Linked DNA regions of Homo sapiens: region 1 is linked to region 2. Evidence: fine-mapped expression QTL. A gene starts in region 2. The other region holds a variant in brackets. All regions are shown on one strand. Distances are from middle to middle.

Region 1 (9,814 bases), 28 kb after region 2:
CAGGTGATCTCTGAGTATTTTTTAAAATACCCTAAAAGTGGGAGGGGCAAGGTGAATATTTCCACTCAGGAAAGTTGGTATTTCCAGGGAATGTTTAATATATGCAGTGATTAGCACAACTTTTTGCTGTTTAACCTTCTTACTCACCAGTGTGTTTTCAAGGTCTTCTTATGGGACAGACAGGGCATCTTGATTAAAAGTCAGAGCTTTGGTCAGACCTGAGTTTACATGTCCACTCTGCAAGTGATCTTCAATAATATCCTTAACTTCTCTTTTTTTTTTTTTTTTTTTGAGATGGAGTCTTGTTCTATCACCCAGGCTGGAGTGCAATGGCATGATTTCAGCTCACCGCAACTTCCTCCTCCCAGGTTGAAGTGATTCTCCTGCCTCAGCCTCCTGAGTAGCTGGGATTACAGGTGTGCACCACCATGCCCGGCTAATTTTGTATTTTTAGTAGAGACAGGGTTTTGCTATGTCTGTCAGGCTGGTCTCGAACTCTTGACTTCAGGTGATCCACCTGCCTTGGCCTCCCAAAGTGCTGGTATTACAGGCGTGAGCCACTGTGACTGGCCTAAAAATACCCTTCACTTCCCTAAGCCTCAGTTCTTCATCTCTGAAGTGGGTGCCATGACAGTAACTGTTTCTTAGTGTTAGCATTAAAAGAGGTGGCGTGTGCAAAACATGTGTTCCATAAACATAAGGGAGAAATTCTAAGTCGGGTAGTAAAGTTCTTTTCTGATTTTATGGCACATTGTATGCAGCAAATCCAAACCACACCTTTTCCTTGGTGGTTGTGAAGGGTCTGTTGTTGTTGTTTGAGAGAGTCTCACTCCGTCGCCCAGGCTGGAGTCCAATGGTGCGATCTCTGCTCACTGCAACCACTGCCGCCTGGGTTCAAGTGATTCTCGTGCCTCAGTCTTCTGAGTGGCTGGGATTACAGGGGCCTGCCACCACGCCCAGCTTATTTTGGTATTTTTAGTAGAGACAGGGTTTCACCATGTTTGCCAGGCTGGTCTCAAACTCGCGACCTCAAGTGATCTGCTCACCTTGGCTTCCCAAAGTGCTGGGATTACAGGTGTGAGCCACCACGCCTGGCCGTGAAGTTCTAATTCTTTATTTCCCTCTCCCTTCCAGAATGTCCTCTGCAGGCATTGTTTCCTTTGTCCTCTAAGCAGCATGCTCCTTCCATGCGGACTTCTGGCTCCTGAAAGGTAATTTGCAATGGACAGCATGACTATTGTTTTACCCAGAATTGATAACATGGAAAAATGAACATTAAACGAGTTAGGGCTTTTTTAGTTTTCAATGACCTTGCCCGTTAAGAGAATCAACTGGCTTTTTCCCAATGCGGGTCAAAAAATTAAACGGAATTGTTCCTGGGTTGTCACAGCTGAATTGTCTGGTTCTCCCACTCTCATCCCCACCAGGGAGAAGGAGAAGAACAGGCTATTATGAGGATCAGTCCACGGCAGGATTTTTTATGTGTGACTTTGGAGGGCAGGGGGGAAGCCACAAGAGTAAGTCCAACATGGGAAGCTGTCATTCGAAGGAGCTTGTCAGAAGGCAGGAGGAAAACACGGAGAAGAGCCTATAGCAGGAAAAGACCAGTCTGCCTCAAGTGCCTAAAAGAGTGGGGCCACAGGATCCAAACCGACAGCACATCAGAGATTGGAAAATAGGTTAAACTATTATAGAACAGAGTTGTGGTTAAGATCCCACCCTCAAAGGGTTCAAACCCAGCTGGGCCCTTCCCATTTGCGAATTTGGGCAGATTGCTGCTCTACTGCAAAGTTCAGTTTTCTCATCTGTGAAATGGGACTACCATAAAATTAGAATATTTATGTCTTAGGGCGATTTTAAAATTATTTAATTTTTGTTTATTTATTTATTTCTGAGACAGGGTCTTGCTCTGTCACCCAGGCTGGAGTACAGTGGTGTAATCATGGTTGCAACCCCGACCTCCCAGGCCCAAGCAATCCTCCTACCTTAGTCTCTCAAGTAGCTAGGACCACACGCGCGTGCCACCATGCCCAGCTAGGTTGTGTGTGTGTGTGTGTATAAAGACTATCTCCCTATGTTGCCTATGCTGGTAGGGTAGTTTTAAAGACATCATACTTACAAAGTACTTCACTAAGGTCTTATAATTCTTCAAATAACTACATTTCTGCTCAAACACTACCAGTCAGTGAGCCACCCCCATCATCCCATCTACTTAAAATTGAATCTCAACCCAGCACTTCTTGTCCCTCTTCTCTGCTTTATTTTCTCCATAGCTAAATATCACTCTTATGCGATCTGAGGGATTACTTATAAATATTTTCAATATTGTCATTCTCCTTCCATTAGAATTTAAACTCCTTGAAGGGAGAATCTTTTGTCTGTTTTGTTCACTGATTCTATCCCTAGCATCTTGACACAGTGCCTGGGCAGGTGCTCAATAAATCGAGTTGTTGAGAAGCCGGGCGCGGTGGCTCACGCCTGTAATCCCAGTACTTTGTGGGGCTGAGGTGGGTGGATCACGAGGTCAGGAGATCGAGACCAACCTGGTGAACATGGTGAAATCCCGTCTCTACTAAAAATACAAAAAAAAAATTAGCCGGGCGTGGTGGTGGGTGCCTGTAGGCCCAGCTACTCAGGAGGCTGAGGCAGGAGAATGGCGTGAACCCGGGAGGCAGAGCTTGCAGTGAGCAGAGATCTTGCCACTGCACTCCAGCCTGGGCGACAGAGCGAGACTCCGTCTCAAAAAAAAAAAAAAAAAAAAAAAAAAACAAAAAAAAACCGAGTTGTTGAATAAATAAACAATGGCCAACATTATCATCACCATTCCGGGTCAGAAATGCTTGACAACCCCTTGGGACAGGAAAGTAGGGGAAGGTAAATATTTTAAAAATTGGGGTAGCGGCTGGGCACAGTGGTTCACGCCTGTAATCCCAGAACTTTGGGAGGCCGAGGAGGGTGGATCACCTGAGATCAGGAGTTTGAGACTAGCCTGGCCAACATGGTGAAACCCCGTCTCTACTAAAACCACAAAAATTAGCCGGGCGTGGTGGCTCGTGCCTGTAGTTCCAGCTACTTGGGAGGCTGAGGCAGAGAATCGCTTGAACCCAGGAAGTGGAAGTTGCAGTAAGCCCAGATCACACCACTGTGCTCTAGCCTGGATGACAGAGCGAGACCCTGTCTCAAAAATAAATAAATAAATAAAAATAAAATATAATAAAATGGGGATGGGTGAGGCTTGACCGTCTCAAAAAAAATTGGGGTAGCTAATTGTAAATTTTTATCGGGTCCTGAATGAAGCTTCCATATCTTGTCCTTCACATCACCCATGAAGAGCATCCTGAGAGACGTCTTTAGGGCAACGGATGAAGAGGAAGGAGCAAAGCCATGACCAGCTGAGACCCAACCAAAAGAAGGGAACAGGCTATACTGCTGGCCCTGGGAAGGGGAGCTCAGGGCTCAAAGTCTGGGGTCTTGGTCAGTGGGGGGTACATTTGTTACAATTAATGTTTCTGTGACTGATAGGGAGCAATGGATTTTCATTTTAAATATTTGTTTATTTTCTTATCTATTTTTCTGATTATACAAACAATATTGATTATGTTCTCTTTGAAATATTTTTTATTTTTTATTATATTTTAAAATTTCATTATTATTATTATTATTTTTGAGACAGAGTCTTGCTCTGTCACCCAGGCTGGAGTTCAAACAATTCTCACTGCTTCCTGGGTTCAAGCAAGTCTCCTGCCTCAGCCTCCTGAGTAGCTGGGACTACAGGCGCGTGCCACCAGGCCCAGCTAATTTTTTGTGTTTTTAGTAGAGATGGGGTTTTACCATGCTGGCCAGGCTGATGTCAAACTTCTGACCTCGTGATCTGCCCGCCTCGGCCTCCCAAAGCGCTGGGATTACAGGCTTGAGCCATCATGCCTGGCCAATTTCATTATTTTTTTTTTCTCAAGACAGAGTCTCACTCTGTCACCCAGACTGGAATGCAGTGGCATGATCTTGACTCACTGCAACCTCT[A/G]CCTCCCGGGTTCAAGCGATTCTCATGCCTCAGCCTCCTGAGCAGCTGAGAGTACAGACGCCTGCCACCACACCTGGCTAATTATTGTATTTTTATTAGAGATGGGGTTTCACCATGTTGGCTAGGATGGTCTCGAACTCCTGGCCTGAAGCAATCTTCCCGCCTCAGCCTCCCAAAGTGCTGGGATTACAGGCATGAGCCACCACACCCAGCCTGAAATATTTTTCAAAAAATATTTCATAGCCAGGCACTTTGGCTCATGCCTGTAAACCCAAAACTTTAGGAGGCTGAGGCAAGAGGATCACTTGAGTCCAGGAATTGGAGACCAGCTTGGGCAACATAGTAAGACCCCCATCTCTACAAAAAAATTAGCCAGGCTTGCCTGCGGACATTCACAAACAACTCCAGAGATTAACCCCAGGGAGGAACTGCAGGTATACAGGAACACTCAAGGAGGACTTCAGCTTTATATTTATGTTGTTTGTTTGTAGTTATTTTTTGAGACAGAATCTTGCTCTGTTGCCCGGGCTGGAGTGCAGTGGTGCCATCACAGCTCACTGCAACCTCAATCTTTCAGGCCTAAGCGATTCTCCTACCTCAGGCTCCTAAGTAGCTGGGACAACAGGTGTGCACCACTATACCCAGCTAATTTTAAAATTATTCTGTAGAGACATGGTCTCACTATGTTGCCCAGGCAGGTCTAGAACTCCTGGACTCAAGTGATCTTCCCACCTCGGCTGGCTTCCCAAAGTGTTAGGATTACAGATGTGAGCCACTGCGCCTGGTGCTTTGTTTGTTTGTTTGTTTTGTTTTGTTTTTACTGGAGAATGGTATTAAAAAAAACACAGGATCTTGGCAATAGGTGTACACTCATGGTGAGTGAATTTATTTTTTTAGGATTACACATTCAGGAAAACGGAAAATGTCTAAATACTACATTTTTAATTCAAAATGAAAAGTTATTAATTAAAAATCGCTATTGTGGAATCTGAAGGAAAAATTTGTACTTCAAAAACTTATGCGGCCAGGCAGCCATGGTGGCTCACGCCTGTAATTCCAGAACTTTGGGAGGCCAAGGCAGCCAGCTCACTTGAGGTCAGGAGTTTGAGACCAGCCTGGCCAACATGGTGAAACCCCGTCTCTACTAAAAATACAAAAATTAGCTGGGTGGGGGGGCTCATGCCTGTAATCCCAGCTACGCGGAAGGCTGAGGCATGAGAATCGCTTGAACCCGGGAGGCGGAGGTCGCAGTGAGCGGAGATTGCGCCATTGCATTCCAGCCTGGGTGACAGAGTGAGACCCTGTCTCAACAACAACAACAAATGCAACTTATGGTCCTGGCGAGGTGGCTCAAACCTATAATCCCAGCACTTTGGGAAGCTGATGCTGGCAGATCACTTGAGGTCAAGAGTTTGAGACCAGCTTGGCCAACACGGCGAAAACCCATCTCTACCAAAAATACAAAAAGTAGCTGGTTGTGGCGGCATGTGCCTGCCTGTGGTTCCGGCTACTTGGGAGGCTGAGGCAGGAGAATCGCTTGAACGAGGAGGCGGAGGTTACAGTGAGCCGAGATCGCACCACTGCACTCTAGCCTGGGCAATGGCGAGACTCTGTCTCAAAAAAAACCAAAAAAAAAAAAAAAACTTATGTACTTCTTGAAGAAAGAATGTTAAAATCTAGACTTTTTTCTTTCCTTTCTTTCTTTCTTTCTTTTTTTTTTTTTTTTAAGATAGTGTCTCCCTCTGTTGTCCAGGCTGGAGTGCAGTGGCAGGATCGCTGCTCACTGCAACCTCTGCTTCTGGGGTTCAAGTGATTCTCTTACCTCAGCCTCCTGAGTAGCTGGGATTATAGGCACCCACCACCACACCCAGCTAAGTTCTTTACATTTTAGTAAAGAGCAAGTTTCACCATATTGGCCAGGTTGGTGTCGAACTCCTGACCTCAGGTGATCCGCCTCCCAAATTGTTGGGATTACAGGCGTGAGCCATGGCGCCCGGCCAAAATCTACAGACATCTTTGAGAGGCAGATTTACATCTTTTGTACCATACATACATACAACATTTTGTCACTCAAAAAATGGCATCATATGATTCTGCCCAGGTAGAGTCTATAAATGGGAAAACCATTCCACTCCATAAATGGGAAAACCGAGACACAGAGAAGAGGTGTGACTCTGACCACCGAAGTCACAAATGAGCTGAAGCCAGAATTAGCTTCTTTCATTCAAAGCAACACTTTGTGCCGAGATTTTGTCAAATAACTGGGAAATACAAAGATGAACAATTTGCAGCTCCACTCCTCTTTATTAATTTTATTTATTTATTTATTTATTTATTTATTTATTTATTTTGAGATGGAGTCTTGCTCTGTCGCCCAGGCTGGAGTGCAGTGGTGTGATCTCGGCTCACTGCAACCTCTGCCTCCTGGGTTCAAGCAATTCTGCTGCCTCAACCTCCCTAGTAGCTGGGCCTACAGAGGCGTGTCACGACGCCCAGCCAGTGTTTTGTATTTTTAGTAGAGATGGGGTTTCACTGTATTAGCCTGGATGGTCTCAATCTCCTGACCTCGTGATCCGCCCACCTCGGCCTCCCAAAGTGCTGGGATTACAGGTGTGACCCACCGCACCCGGCCACTCTTTATTTTCTAGAGCCTCTTTCTCTAGCATAATCTCCAGATTATGCAGGAAATTGTACTTGGGTTTGAGGAGAATAACAGGTTCTCCCAGGTGAAGAGGGTTTTGAGACTTTCTCCTTAACTATACCCTCTCCCCACCAATACCTCTGCTATGCAAAGGCAGAAATTCATTCTTAGGCTGTTTCCTAAAGCCAGACCAGGGGCTCAAACTCAAGTACCTGTAAGGCCTGTCAGGTCAAGCAAATGAGTGCTGCAGGCCAGGTATGACAAAAGCCACAGCCCAAGTGTCATGATGTGTAGCGGCTGCCACCTGGCCTTCATTACATCCACCAGTCATCACAACAACCAGGTAGCCTGATTGTTGACAAGGGGGCTGCAGACACAATGTCGCTAATCTTTCCAATTTTTCAAGAAAAGCAGAAAAGCTCTAAGCAGGCCAAGACTGTGTCTTCAGCCTTCAGACTACTTGTTTTTTTTGTTTGTTTAGTTTAGTTGTATATTACTTCTGAGCTAGTATTTATTAATTGTTCTAGGTACTAGTTTCGCTTAAACTCATTTCAGAGGCAGTATTCTTTCTTTCTTCTTTTTTTTTTTAGACGGAGTCTCACTCTATTGCCTAGGCTGGAGTGCAATGGCGCAATCTTGGCTCACTGCAACTTCTGCCTCCCTGGTTCAAGTGATTCTCCTGCCTCAGCCTCCCAAATAGCTGGGATTACAGGCATGCACCACCACGCCTGGCTAATTTTGTATTTTTAGTAGAGACGGGGTTTCACCATGTTGGTCCAGCTGGTCTCAAACTCCTGACCTCAGGTAATCTGACCACCTTGGCGTCCCAAAGTGCTGGGATTACAGGCATGAGCCATTGCGCCTGGCCTCAAATATCCTCTTAGATCCAGGGCAACATCTGCTTTCCTGGCTTGTATAAATTCTAGCACAGTTCACATGCCTATATGGGTGCTTAATAAATACTCTTTGAAGGTGATGATAATAAATTGAGATTTGGAAAACCTGAAACCTCTTTCTAGGAGCATGGCTCAGAGGGTGGAATGCTTTAGAAAGAGTCCCTGTGGGGCCTGGTACGGTGCTCATGCCTGTAATCCCAGCACTTTGGGAGGCCTGAGGCAGGCAGATCACCTGAGGTCAGGAGTTCGAGACCAGCCATGGCCAACATGGTGAAACCCCGTCTCTACTAAAACAAAATTAGCCAGCGTGGTGATGTGTGCCTGTAATTCCAGCTACTTGGGAGGCTGAGGCAGGAGAATCGCTTGAACCCGGGAGGCGGAGGTTGTGGTGAGCTGAGATCTCACCATTGCACTCCAGCCTGGGCAACAACAGCGAAACTCCATCTCAAAAAAAAAAAAAAAAAAAAGTCCCTGTGAGAAAAGGCAAAAGGAATTGGGGTTACTAATAACGTATCATGGAGAAAAGAAGGTTAAGGAGAATTTAATAGCCATCTTCAAATATCTAAAGGGATATTGCTCATGTGTTTTAAACATCAGTTCTTGTCTACTAAGGACAGGACATGAGGGAATTATCTTAAATGGGAGCAGGAGGGACTTAGATTAGATATCAATGGGGGGAAAATCCCAGCAGAAAGGATCGTGAGATGCTGGAAGGCAACATGATGTAGTGAAAGGACATGGTTATTTTCACAACAAGGGCTGCTCATTATCATTGTGGGAAGTGTGGCGCTTGGGGCTTCCAAGTCAGCCAGTTACTAGTTGTATGATCTTGAGCAAGTGACTTCACCTTTCTGATGCTCAGTTTCCTCATTTGTTAAATAGGGATAATAATAACATCTATCTATTGGATTGTTATGAGGATTAAATAAGACTAGGGGTACAAAGCCATTAGGCCAGGCCTGGCCCAAAGTAAGGCTCAACCAATAATGGACGCCATTCATTACTGTTAATCAGCTACAGTCTTACCTGGGAAAACCTACCTTACATGTAGACACAAGCTCCCTTTTCAGGCACATCAAATGAACAAATACGGTATTCCTGTGTGTTGTAGGACTTATAGCTCACTAAGGACACATGATGTGAACGCTCAGAAAGTTCAATAAATAGAATATTTTAAATAGTGGAGCTAATAGAGTGAAGTGGTCAAGAGCATGGCGTCAATAAAATATATGAGCACTTAGAATAGTGCTTGGCATCTTGGAGTTGTTTGCCCCTGATAGAACAAAAGCACAGTCAAGGTAAGGTAAATTTTTTATTTTTTTATTTTTTGAGATGGAGTCTCACTCTGTCGCCCAGCTCACTGCAAGCTCTGCCTCCCGGGTTCACGCCATTCTCCTGCCTCAGCCTCTGGAGTAGCTGGGACTACAGGCGCCCGCCACCACGCCTGGCTAATTTTTTGTATTTTTAGTAGAGATGGGGTTTCACTGTGTTAGCCAGGATGGTCTCGATCTCCTGACCTTGTGATCCACCTGCCTCAGCCTCCCAAAGTGCTGAGATTACAGGCATGAGCCACCGCGCCCGGCTTTTTTTTTTTTGAGATGGAGTATCCCTCTGTCACCCAGGCTGGAGTTCAGTGGCCTGATCTTGGTTTACTGCAACTTCCGCCTCTCAGGTTCAAGCAATTCTCCTGCCTCAGCCTCCTGAGCAGCTGGGACCACAGGCGTGCATCTCCATGCCTGGCTAATTTTTGTATTTTTAGTAGAGACGGGGTTTCACCATGTTGGCTAGGCTGACTTCGAACTCCTGACCTCAAGTGATCTGCCCTCCTTGGCCTCCCAAAGTTCTGAGATTACAGGTGTGAGCCACTATGCCCAGCAGGTAAAACCAATTTTTAAGTGAAAGGTTCAAAAAGACCCATAGGAGTTTTCAGGTGGGAGAAATTGCTCCAAATTAGTGTAGGCCAAGCAGGTAGGTAAGATTTGAATCCACGAGTCTGTAAATACACTTTCTCGGAAGGGTCTTGGTTATCTCAAATAATGATTAGTTATTCACTATTTGGGTGTCCTGTGCTTTTATTCTTCAATCATTGTAGGCACTACGTTGAATACCTGATTTGTCAGCTTTGAAGAAGGACAGCTATGCATTTCTGATATTTTGAATACACCCAAGAAACAGTGTTCTACATTGGGATTGCATTCTATAAACTTTACTTCAGAGCAATTATAACTGCTGCACATTTAAGTTACTAATATTTAT
Region 2 (10,239 bases):
AAAACATTAAAGAACCATTAAAATTTGCTTCAAAATAATTTTGGAATGGTGGGAATTACAGAGAAAACACGACTGGCCAAGTATTGCTAATTGCTGAAGATGGGCACTGAGTTCATGGGAGGTTCAAGAGTCTCTGCTCTCTGCATGTTATGTTTCAAAGGTGTCCACAATAAAAAGTTGTTAAAATCTTGAAAATAAGTTCATTAAAACAAAATGTGTTTCATGAAAACACAAAAAGGAATCATGTATGGAACAGTGCATTTGTTTTTAAAACTTGAAACAAAAGATGATAATTATATTGGAAATAGTGCAAGAGCAACTTAAAAGCATATGCAAAATATATAATAACATTTAGACTAATATATAACAATTTTCACCTTTCTTGCTAAATTTTCACTTGAAAAAATTGATTTTTACATATGTAGAATTAAAAGAATCACACAGCACTGTACAAAGAAAAATGTAACAGATTTTTATATTGAAACCTTAAAAAGAGAAGCACACCAAAAAAAGACTCCAAAGAGTCTCTAAACCTGTGGGTTCACAATTAAATAGAGAGGTGTCGAATGACAGTACTGCCTTGTCTCTTTGAAAGCTAGTCACACTTCTAGCAATAAAGATAAAAGGTTTAATCTCACATCATATACTAAATGCACATAAAACCTCACTTGTAAACTATACTCTTGATCTAGTTTTAATATCTAAAATTCTTATGACTCTTTCTAGGGAGGGTTCCTTTAAAAGTAAGGCATTTTTACTAGTCATTTTCTTCTCCTTAAACATAAAAAATACTTCAACCAGCCCAACCAACCAAGCAGGCCTTTCTCTTCCCCTGCGGACACCTCCTGCAGTAGAGAAGTTCATTAAGTTTTATGATCTTCCCAAGTCAGTCCTACTTATAAGCCTCACAAAGGCTACAAATCTGGCAAACCATCATGTATGCCATTAGACATTACTAGTAAATGAACGCTATTTAGGGTTTGTGGTGGCAATAAATCAGAGTTTGGTTGGCAGCCATCAACATGGAGTATTTTAACCTATTATTTGAAAAGGAAAAGGTTGTGTTTATTTTTTTTCATGCATAACATTTTTCACAATAATGTGATTCATATTATCTACTAAAATGTGGGATTTCATTTAAAAAATAAATATTTTTTTCTTGAAAAAGAACTATTTCCTTCACTTAAACTCGCACAATTAAGGGCTTTGGAAAGAAGACAAGATTTTTCAGGATGAAATATTTCACAAAGGAAAGCACTTCAACAATTAAGATTAAGATGACCAAAAAGAGGTGGGGGCATACACCAAAAGAGGTATGCAGGTGAGCAGACCTTGTGGCATCAGGGATATTTAATAAGAGACAGATGATAAAATATGGCTTTAAAAATCAGGAGAAAAATCTTAACATATCAACAATAATCTCACTGGTTACTTGGTTTAAAATAAACAACTATTTTTATTTTAAAGCCTACAACTTTTTGGGTGCTCTCAAAATGCACAAATATCACAATTCAACAATGAGAGACATTTCTGCCCAAAAATAATGGTATGATCAATTTTACGAAAGAATATATTCTCAAGAAAAAGCAGCATCTTATAGTAGAAGTATACTTTCCTTACCTCTCAACAAGAAAATAATATAATTGTAGTAGATTACCCATTTATCTGTCAGAAGGGAAAAATACCTTTTCATATATGGTAGAGGGGGAAACAGATGTTTTCTAAACTAAATCCCCCATGTGCATAAGAACTGGCAGTGTTCACTGCCTGATCAGAAACCTCAAAATCCACTGGCAGAGCTACAAATAAACAGATTTTTTTTAAAATGATTTTGTTTTGTTTTAGAAGAAAAGCACAACTGAAATGACATTATCCACTGAAATGACAGTTCACCCTCAACCCCCTTCATTAAGCAGAATAGAGTCATCAACATAATGTTTCTGGTTTCTATTCATAAATGACTAGGTAAACTTTCTCTAAATTACAAAGAATTAATTTTTAGGTATTATTAGATTAAATAAAATGATTTTTAAAAAATATTTATGCAATATACATATATTCTACAATGTTTCTTTTATAAGTTCATGTTTCTAAAGCATGACCGACTATGGAAGCAGGAGTGGGGGGGCTTGGAATTTGCAGCCCCGCTTTCTTTGCTTTGGTAACACTAATGTCTACACAGCTGTTTTATTTCGAATTGAGGATTCTGAGTCCCTGTCTCATTCTAAGACTAGTTTTGGAGAGTGAGGTGAAGCTATGGGTAGTAGGGGAGAATGGAAAGAAGAGAAAGAGCTTCACCCCCATCAATCACTCAGTACTTAAATCCCATCCCTCTCGAGCTTAGAGAGGCTAGCAGGAAGATGCCTCTACCCAGACAGCCGCCTTTACTCTTTGTCGGCTGTTGGCTTTTTACAAAAGAGATAACGTGCAAATGTGGATCCACTGGCCAAAGCACAAAAAGAGAATCTAATTTACAAGTTATCACTGAAAGCCCCAGAAACAATTTTAAAACACAAAAATTTCTTTTGTCAGCTGCCTCTTGGTTTTTAAATAGCAATAGCCCTACCAAAGCTCTCTCTGCCAGTAATCCCAGACTTTGAAAAGATTTGTTTCTTTTTCGTAACTCACCTTTGACATGTGGTTGACTATACTTTCCTTTCAGAATGGTGTAACTAAGTCCTGTGCAAATAAGCAACTAAAGGACTTATGCTTCCTAATTGAATTCTGCCTGCTGCTAAATGTCTCAACATGAAAAGCAGTTTGCTGGGTTTAGTTCTCAAGCTAGCTAGGCCAAAACTTTAAAAAGGCAAAAATAAATAAATAAATACAAATAATGAGAAGGGGATGAGAAGCGATAAGTATCCATCCCCTCTCCCTAGTAATATAAGGCTGTATAAAGTCGAATCAATCTTAATATTCACAACATAGTCAATACCCCAGTGCTTGGCTGTCAGCAGAAACTGAAGTGGAGCCCTGATAGCAGGAAAACCCTTGGACACTAAGCATCAGAATTTACTGAGAATTGCATACTTTTAAGCTTCTAAACTAAGAATCTTCAAGACTGAATGCTAGATGTCTTATTTTACAGTCAGATAAAAATTATCTACTGCTTTAAATCAAAACGCTTTCTAAAGGTAGCTAAAAATCAACACAAAATAAAAGTTAGTAATTCAAGAAAGGATCACTGAGCATTAAGAAACCAGCCATAATATGTGAATGAAAACCAGGAAAAGTACTCTTTGGCCTCCCTTATTATTTGCTGCTTATTATGGTTTAGCATATATATTTAATAGACAGCAATAACTCATCATCTTTTCTTGATTACTTTTAGGATCAGAATAGTATTGCAAAGCGAAAAACCTGTTTCAAAGAAGGCTGACTCGCCTATCAACCTAACAATTATTTGCACTGTGCTATTTGTACACTCAATTTAAACACAATCACATGTAACCTTCTAAATAGCCTCCCTTGGATAGTGCTATATCCTGGACTTCAACTTTTTCTCCTTTGCCTCAACTTTCAAAATGGCAACTTTAAAATACCATACATCCAACACACACCAAAAAAAAAAAAAAAAAGAAAGAAAAGAACAGGAAAAAAATAAACAGTAGAGCTTGTTTAATGTACTTGTTTGCCACATACAGGGAAGATAATGCCAAATACAAACTAAAACATCCAAATCTCTGCTTCAGTTTGAGCAGTTACCTCACGTCAAGACTGAAAGACCTTCAATTAATAAAGTCTGACAAGAAAGTTAAACTGAAACGAATTGCCAAAAATTTGCCAAATATGTACCTGTAGTTTTCATTCCAGCACTTCTGCAAAACCTATCTTCTTATATATTCCCTGACTTGGACACTTCAAAATTGTTTAACCTGCATCTGTAGACCTTTTTATACTTTATATATTAAGCACAGTTACAAGTGTAATGACTTCAGAATACAAAATAATACAAGTATTAACAGATGTAATACATCGTATGTGTCTACACATCATTACCCTTCCTCGATTCTCTAAAGTAGCCTTCCCACCTAAAACACTAATTCAAGCATGCTACTGGGGTCTGTTCAATTGCATCTATTCTTCTATCCGTGCAGCTGAAGCTTAAGACTGTCTAAGTAAAACAAAGTTCGGGCGATGCTTCTCCCGGGGACTCGGTCCTGGCATCCAGTCTCCCGTTGCTCCTTTTAAAAACTGACACACAAACAAGGCGAAAGGAGAGGGAAGAGGGCGGCTGGCGCTCCGGGCCCCCTCCCCGCCTGCAGCCAGGGGCGGCCGCCGAGGGACGGCGATCCAGCCCGGTCCGCACCTACACTTCATTTTACACCAGGAGCAGAACTGAGAAATTGACTCCAGATTTATTGCAGTTTTTTCTCAAGATCAGGACGTGGGAAGGAGAGAATGATCAAAGATGGCGGTGCCCAAAAGCAGCAGCTCTCAACTGGAGAGTCGAAGGAGTAGCTCCGACCCCCACCTCGGGGGTCTCCAGGCCCACTGCGGGGCGCAGCGTCTTACCTGTTTTCTCTTTGATCTCACACAGGACGCTGAAGAGCGCTGGTTTCATTCTGTGACAGTTCAGGGCATGTTTCCTAAAAAACAAATAACGAAACACAAAGGTATTAGCATCACCTATGGAATAATATGGCGCCTTCCTTTAAGTTAGACCCAAGATTTAATTCCAGCCCCCCATTCTGGAAGGCCCTTTTGAACCGTGGGAAGTCAACAAAAACTCCAGTTGACTAGTTCCCGACAGCCAGCAAGCCCCGGCGGCGAAAGCTGCAGCCGGAACAAGGCGGACCCATCTGCCCGGCAGGCAGCAGCCTCGGCCACTGCAGACGCGACGCGAACCCGCGCGGGGAGCCTCGCCCCGGGGGCAGGCGAAGGCGACCCGGGGGAGGGGACGGGTGCGGAGGGGCTCCCGCGTCCGCTCCTGTGCAGAGGAGGCCGGCCGACTGCGGCCAGCGGGAGGGTGACAGCTCGGCAAAGTTTGCAAGGCGGCCCTCCCTCTCCGAGAACTTGGCCGTCCGCACCCGGACCCGCCAGGGAACCGCCCATCGCCCCGCGCCGGGCCCGGGTGGCCGCCCGCATCGCGAGGTCGTCCCGCGGCCGCGGGAGCCGGCGCCGGGACTCCCCGCCGGAGGAGAAAGTTACACTTCCCGGCGGCGCGGCCCGCACGGGGTCGGGGCGGGAGGTTTAAATCCCTGGGAGGGGGCCGGGCTGCGAGGGGCAGGACGGGGGAAAGGACGCCACGGAATCCGCGCCGCACCGAGTCCGTCCCGAGCCCCCCAGAGCAACTTTGCCGACTCCCGCCCGCTTCGGGGGGCGCGGGCAAGTCCCCCCGAGGCCGGGGCGGGCGGCCGGCTTTCGGAGAAAGTTCCCCGCCGGGGGCTGCGGCCCTAGCCCCGGGCGCCACCCCGGGCCTCGACTCGGCCGCGGGCCCGGCTCCCGCACACACACAAAAGATGCTTAATGAGACGACACCAACTTTGCTTGCGCCTCGTCCAAGCTCTGGTCGGTGATGGTCATGATCTGGTGGAGGATGTCGCCGATGTCCTGCTTCCTGCCGTCGCCGTCCGCCCCTTCGTGGCCGTGCGGGGGAGGCGGCAGGGCCATGCCCCCCTGCACCGAGTGGCCAGCCAGGTTCACCCCGGCCAGAGTCTGCAGCATCCTGGATTGATCGTCCATCCCGCCGCGCGCGGGCGGGAGCGGGCGGCGGCTGAGGCGAAGGCTGAGGCGGCGGCGGCGGCGGCGGCGACGAGGGAGGAGAAGAAAGAGGGGGAGGGGGAGGGGGAGGCGGCCGCGCGCTCCCCGCCCGCGCGGGGAGGGGGCGGCCCGGCCGGCAGGGCCCGCGGCTGAGGCGATGAGGACGGGCGCCCGGCTCCGGCTTCCGCCGCCGCCGAGGCTGAGGAGAAGCGGCGGGCGGAAGCGCCGGGCTCCGCGGCGGTGGCGGAGGCGGAGGCGGCGGCGCCCGCTGCCCTCACGCGGCCGCCGCGCCGCCTCCTCGCCGCCGCGCGCCCCGCCGGGCGGCCCCGCGCAACTTGCTCCTCAGCGCCCGCCGAGTTGCCGGGACGCCCGCCGCCCCCCGCGCCAGCCTGCGCACTGCCCTCCTCGGCCGCCGCCGCCGCCTCGGCCAGGCGGGATCCGAGCCCCGGCGGCCCCGGGGGAGGCAGCGGCGGCGGCGGCGGGCGGCGGCGGAGGAGGAGGCCTGCGGGCGGGCCGCGGGGAGCGAGGGGGGGCGGAGGAGGAAAGTTTGGGAGCGGGCGGGCAGAGGCGGCGGGGGCGCTGAGCCCGGAGGAGGGCCCCGGCGGGCCGCGCGCCGGGCGGACAGCCGATGGATAGGGCGGGAGAAGTCGCCGCCGCCGCCGCCGGAGCCGCGCACCCAGCCAGCAGCCGCCGCGGACCGGGCTGGAAGGCCGCTGGGCCGAGGGATTGACAGGCTGCCAGTGCCACTCACTCACTGCGGCCCCGCGCCGGGGGGAGGGACGGGGGCTGGCAAGGGCGGGGGAGCGCTCCTCAGACCCCGCCCCCGGGGCGGTGCGCGCGCTCATTGGGCTCTGCGCCTCCCGCCGCCGCCGCCGGCACCGCCCCCGGGGCCCGGCCCGTTCCCTCTGGCCTCTGATACTCCGCGCTCCGGAGTGTGCCGCCGGATCCTCGCTCCAACCTCGTCGCGTCCTAGCCCCCCGGGATAGACCGGGCCGGCCCACAAACGGTGTGCCCGCACCCCGACTCCTGCTCCATGCTTTTGGCAGTCATGGGAGCGGGGGGTTGTGTATGGGACAGTGGGCAACTCGCTGCAAAGCCAACCGTGTGCTCCCCCGCCGCGCCCGTGAGCTTCACGCCTCGGACAGCTCCTGGTGCACTTTCCCGCTCTTCCTGTCAGGAGGTGGTGCCCTCTGGGTACCAGGCCGCTCGTCCCGGGCCAATCGCAAAGCGCTTAGAGCCGAATGGGGCGGGACAGAGGCAAGAAAGGGTCGTCCCAATTGGAGCGTTCGAAAGGTTCTGGGCAGAGGCGGGGAAGCGGCGAGTGGGGGCCTCGCCCCGCCTGCGGTCGCCATGGTAACCGAGAGGGCGCAGCTCAGCGTTGGCGCCAGCACCGGGGTCTTGTGCTGTCCCTCAATGGGTGACCAGTTAAGGTGGGAACCTGTGGTCTCACATACTTGAAGTCTGAGCTGAGTGGACCTGACTGCCATAGACTTTCCATTGAAAGGGGAAATGTGTCAGAGAGAAGCGAGTCTGGGAGGAGGGAAAGTGCCTTCAGTCCAGGACTAATTTCAAGGTTTACAACACTTTACACACTCTGCAACTCCTGATAATCCAGGGACTACTCCTTTGGCAGCGTTTGCTATTCGATGCCTCCAGATGTACTGAAGCTGCAAAAACGAGCTCTTCATTACAAAGATACGTTTGTTTAGGAAGAGACTGGATTTCACTTGTCAACTTACCCCATCACCACGAGTCATTTAATGTTGGTAACGCCAGCCACGATTTTTCGTATCTATAACACCCCTTCTTCCATTGAATTCTACCTACAAATAACTGAAGGCTCACATTATTTTGGAATATGGACCTCCGCCTCTTGTGGAGACTTGAGATTGCTCTTAAGCTGATTTCCCAAACAGGGGCTGCAATGTGTGTTCCCGATTTTAGATTCATTGAGCTCACCCTAGATGAGTCCTTTGGTTCGGTGGTTCGGAAAAGTCTCTTTGTTCCTTCTCCAAACTCAGTAAGCTGTCTTACCTGAAACCAAAAATAGGGGTATGAGGATATGAAAAATGGCTCTTACTCTGCAGGGTTTAATGTAGGACAAGCAGTTCTTTAAATGCCAGATGGATTCTTGGAATGAAGCAGGCTACTCGGTTCCAGGTTCTTTCCTTCATATGTTGTGTGTACTTTTAAATACTCCCCACTGCAAAGCTAATAGCTAAGCTTACAGTTAGGCAAGCTAAAATCCTTACAAACTGCACAGCTGCTGAGGAGGGAGTTCCAAAAAATCCACTCTGCTTACTTACCTCCAAAGAAGAACCCCCTTCATGTTCATTAATATTCTCTGCTCTTCTATACCCCATTGATATGTCAAGTTTCCAATTCTTCTTTGAAGCCCCCATTATGGGTTACTTATAATCGTCATTGATTGGGTTTTTTCTTTATTCTTAATTTGTTTTTTAAAGCTGTCACCAAATTCTTAAGCATTTTTGCCAAAAGGCGCAGGAGCAAGCGGTCAACCTTTCATAATTCTCCAACGCTGAGGATGCAAAACCACAGAATTCTAACTGAAAGATGCCTTAAATTCTAAGATTCCTTCCAGCTGTAAAATTCAATAATCCTGTGACTCACTATTAGGACTCCTCTCTGCCCTCCTTCTAGACTCATAATCTTGACTAATCAGTCATGAGGATGAGGCTAATTAGCAATGGGGATTTATGGTTATTTCTAGCCCACTCCGAACAATGAGTTATGTAAGCAAAGCAACATATATAAAAATGTAAATAGGCCGGTGGCTCATGCCTGTAATCTCAGAACTTTGGGAGGCCGAGGCAGGTGGATCACAAGGTCAGGAGTTGAGACCAGCCTGGCCAACATGGTGAAACCCCATCTCTACTAAAAATACAAAAAATTAGCTGGGCTTGGTGGCAGGCGCCTGTAATCCCAGCTACTCAGGAGGCTGAGGCAGGAGAATCACTTGTACCCAGGAGGTGGAGGTTGCGGTGAACTGAGATTGTGCCACTCCCCTCCAGCCTGGGCGACAGAGTGAGACTTCTTTTCAAAAAAAAAAAAAAAAAGTAAATAAAGAAACACTTAAGCAAATAAAGGCAATTGGGAACTATGGGCTGTGTAAACACACTGGAACATAAAAACATAAATTAGAATTAAGAAAACAGTTAGGCAAATGCCAGCAATTAGGAATAAAACAACTTGTTAAATGTCTAACACCCACAGTTATTTTATGGTACACTCCTCTACACCCATGGTCATTCAGTGATGTGGAAACTTGATACCATAATTCTGCCTTAAGTGATTGAATTAGACTGACCTTCTGCTTGGGAGGCTTCTCTTTTTGTTGTTATCAGTATGAGTTGCAGTAGAAGCCTGAGGACCCTAGCAAGGATTCCTTCACAGGCTCATTGACAACTGCCGTTGATTTAAAGCATAACTTTTTTAGACTGGTTTCCAAGCCTCAATATAACTGTCAACTAATTGCAGATGTTCCAGGATCTCTTGGTGCTCGTGCCAGTGTCTCATGTAGAATGTTGCGTGATCTCTGCTCAAGAATCTGAGTCACAAGGTTGATGCCTTCACAGATGACAGAACAGAAGTTCCCTGAGTACCCGAGTCTGTCTTTGCTGTTTCTAAGGTAGTGATTATTAAAATGTCAAGGGAAATGAAATTGACTTTTGGTGAGCAGACATTCATGTAAAGTTAACAGTGACAAAGTGGTGAAAACCAAGCAGATGTTCCTTCATGGCCATCCCTTTCCATGAGTTTATATTAACATCACCATTGCCTCTGTCATCAATAGGGTGACTATCACAGCAGATGCCATTATTGAGCACTTTCTTTGGGGGTACACTATCCTCTGTGTTCCCTTGCTTCATCTTATTACAGTCTCACAACAGCCTGCTTGGGATTGTTATTAAATAAGAAATAGAATGAGAGAGAGTAAGAAATTTCCACAAGACCACAAAGCCAGTAAGTACTAGAGCTTGAATTCAAATATTGATCTATGTGGCTGCAAAGACTACCGTATAAAACACTGTGCAAAAAAGTAATTTAGCCAGGCTGGTGACATGCAACTGTAGTTCCAGCTACTTTAGAGGCAGAAACAGGAGAATCACTTGAGTGCAGTAGTTTGAGGCTGCAGTATGCTATGATCACACTTGTGAATAGCCACTGCACTCTAGCTTGAGCAAAGTAGTGCTACCATTTCTCCTAAAATTTTTTTAAAAGTTATTTAAGATTATGAAGTAAAAATCACAAGACCTTAACAGATAAACTGAAAAATTAATGAAAATAAGTAACTAGGTGCTTAATAAAGAGAGAATAAACAGCTATATTAGAGGAATCCAGGTCTCAAGGCAGGGGAGGAGGGAAATTAAGGACAGTCAGACCATTCTTCAAAGCCACATTGGGTCCCACCTCTCCGAAGCTTTTCTGTGATGCCTGTCTTCTCTGATCTTTGTCTCCTCTAAACTCCCTCAGAAGATTGCAGTGAGATCGCCTCATTACACTCCAGCCTGGGCA

The links. PIP is the estimated chance that this variant, and not a neighbour inherited with it, causes the effect.
Region 1: its variant is the best candidate, but not a certain one, in a credible set for the expression of PBX3 in unexposed skin (GTEx, PIP 0.62).

The regions. Positions count from the first base shown.
Region 1 is chr9:125,715,556-125,725,369 of GRCh38, reverse strand. No RefSeq gene overlaps it. Among named protein-coding and RNA genes, the nearest start is that of MAPKAP1, 13 kb to the right of the region's middle. The variant A/G (reference allele first, on the strand shown) is at 4,022.
Region 2 is chr9:125,742,900-125,753,138 of GRCh38, reverse strand. PBX3 (PBX homeobox 3) reads right to left here and starts at 5,766. Exons shown (of 9, transcript NM_006195.6): 1 at 5,486-5,766; 2 at 4,516-4,589. The coding sequence starts at 5,685. PBX3-DT (PBX3 divergent transcript) reads left to right here and starts at 7,210. Exons shown (of 2, transcript NR_122032.1): 1 at 7,210-7,723; 2 at 9,202-9,385. RefSeq lists silencers at 4,792-5,131, 5,402-5,931, 5,942-5,991, 6,242-6,671.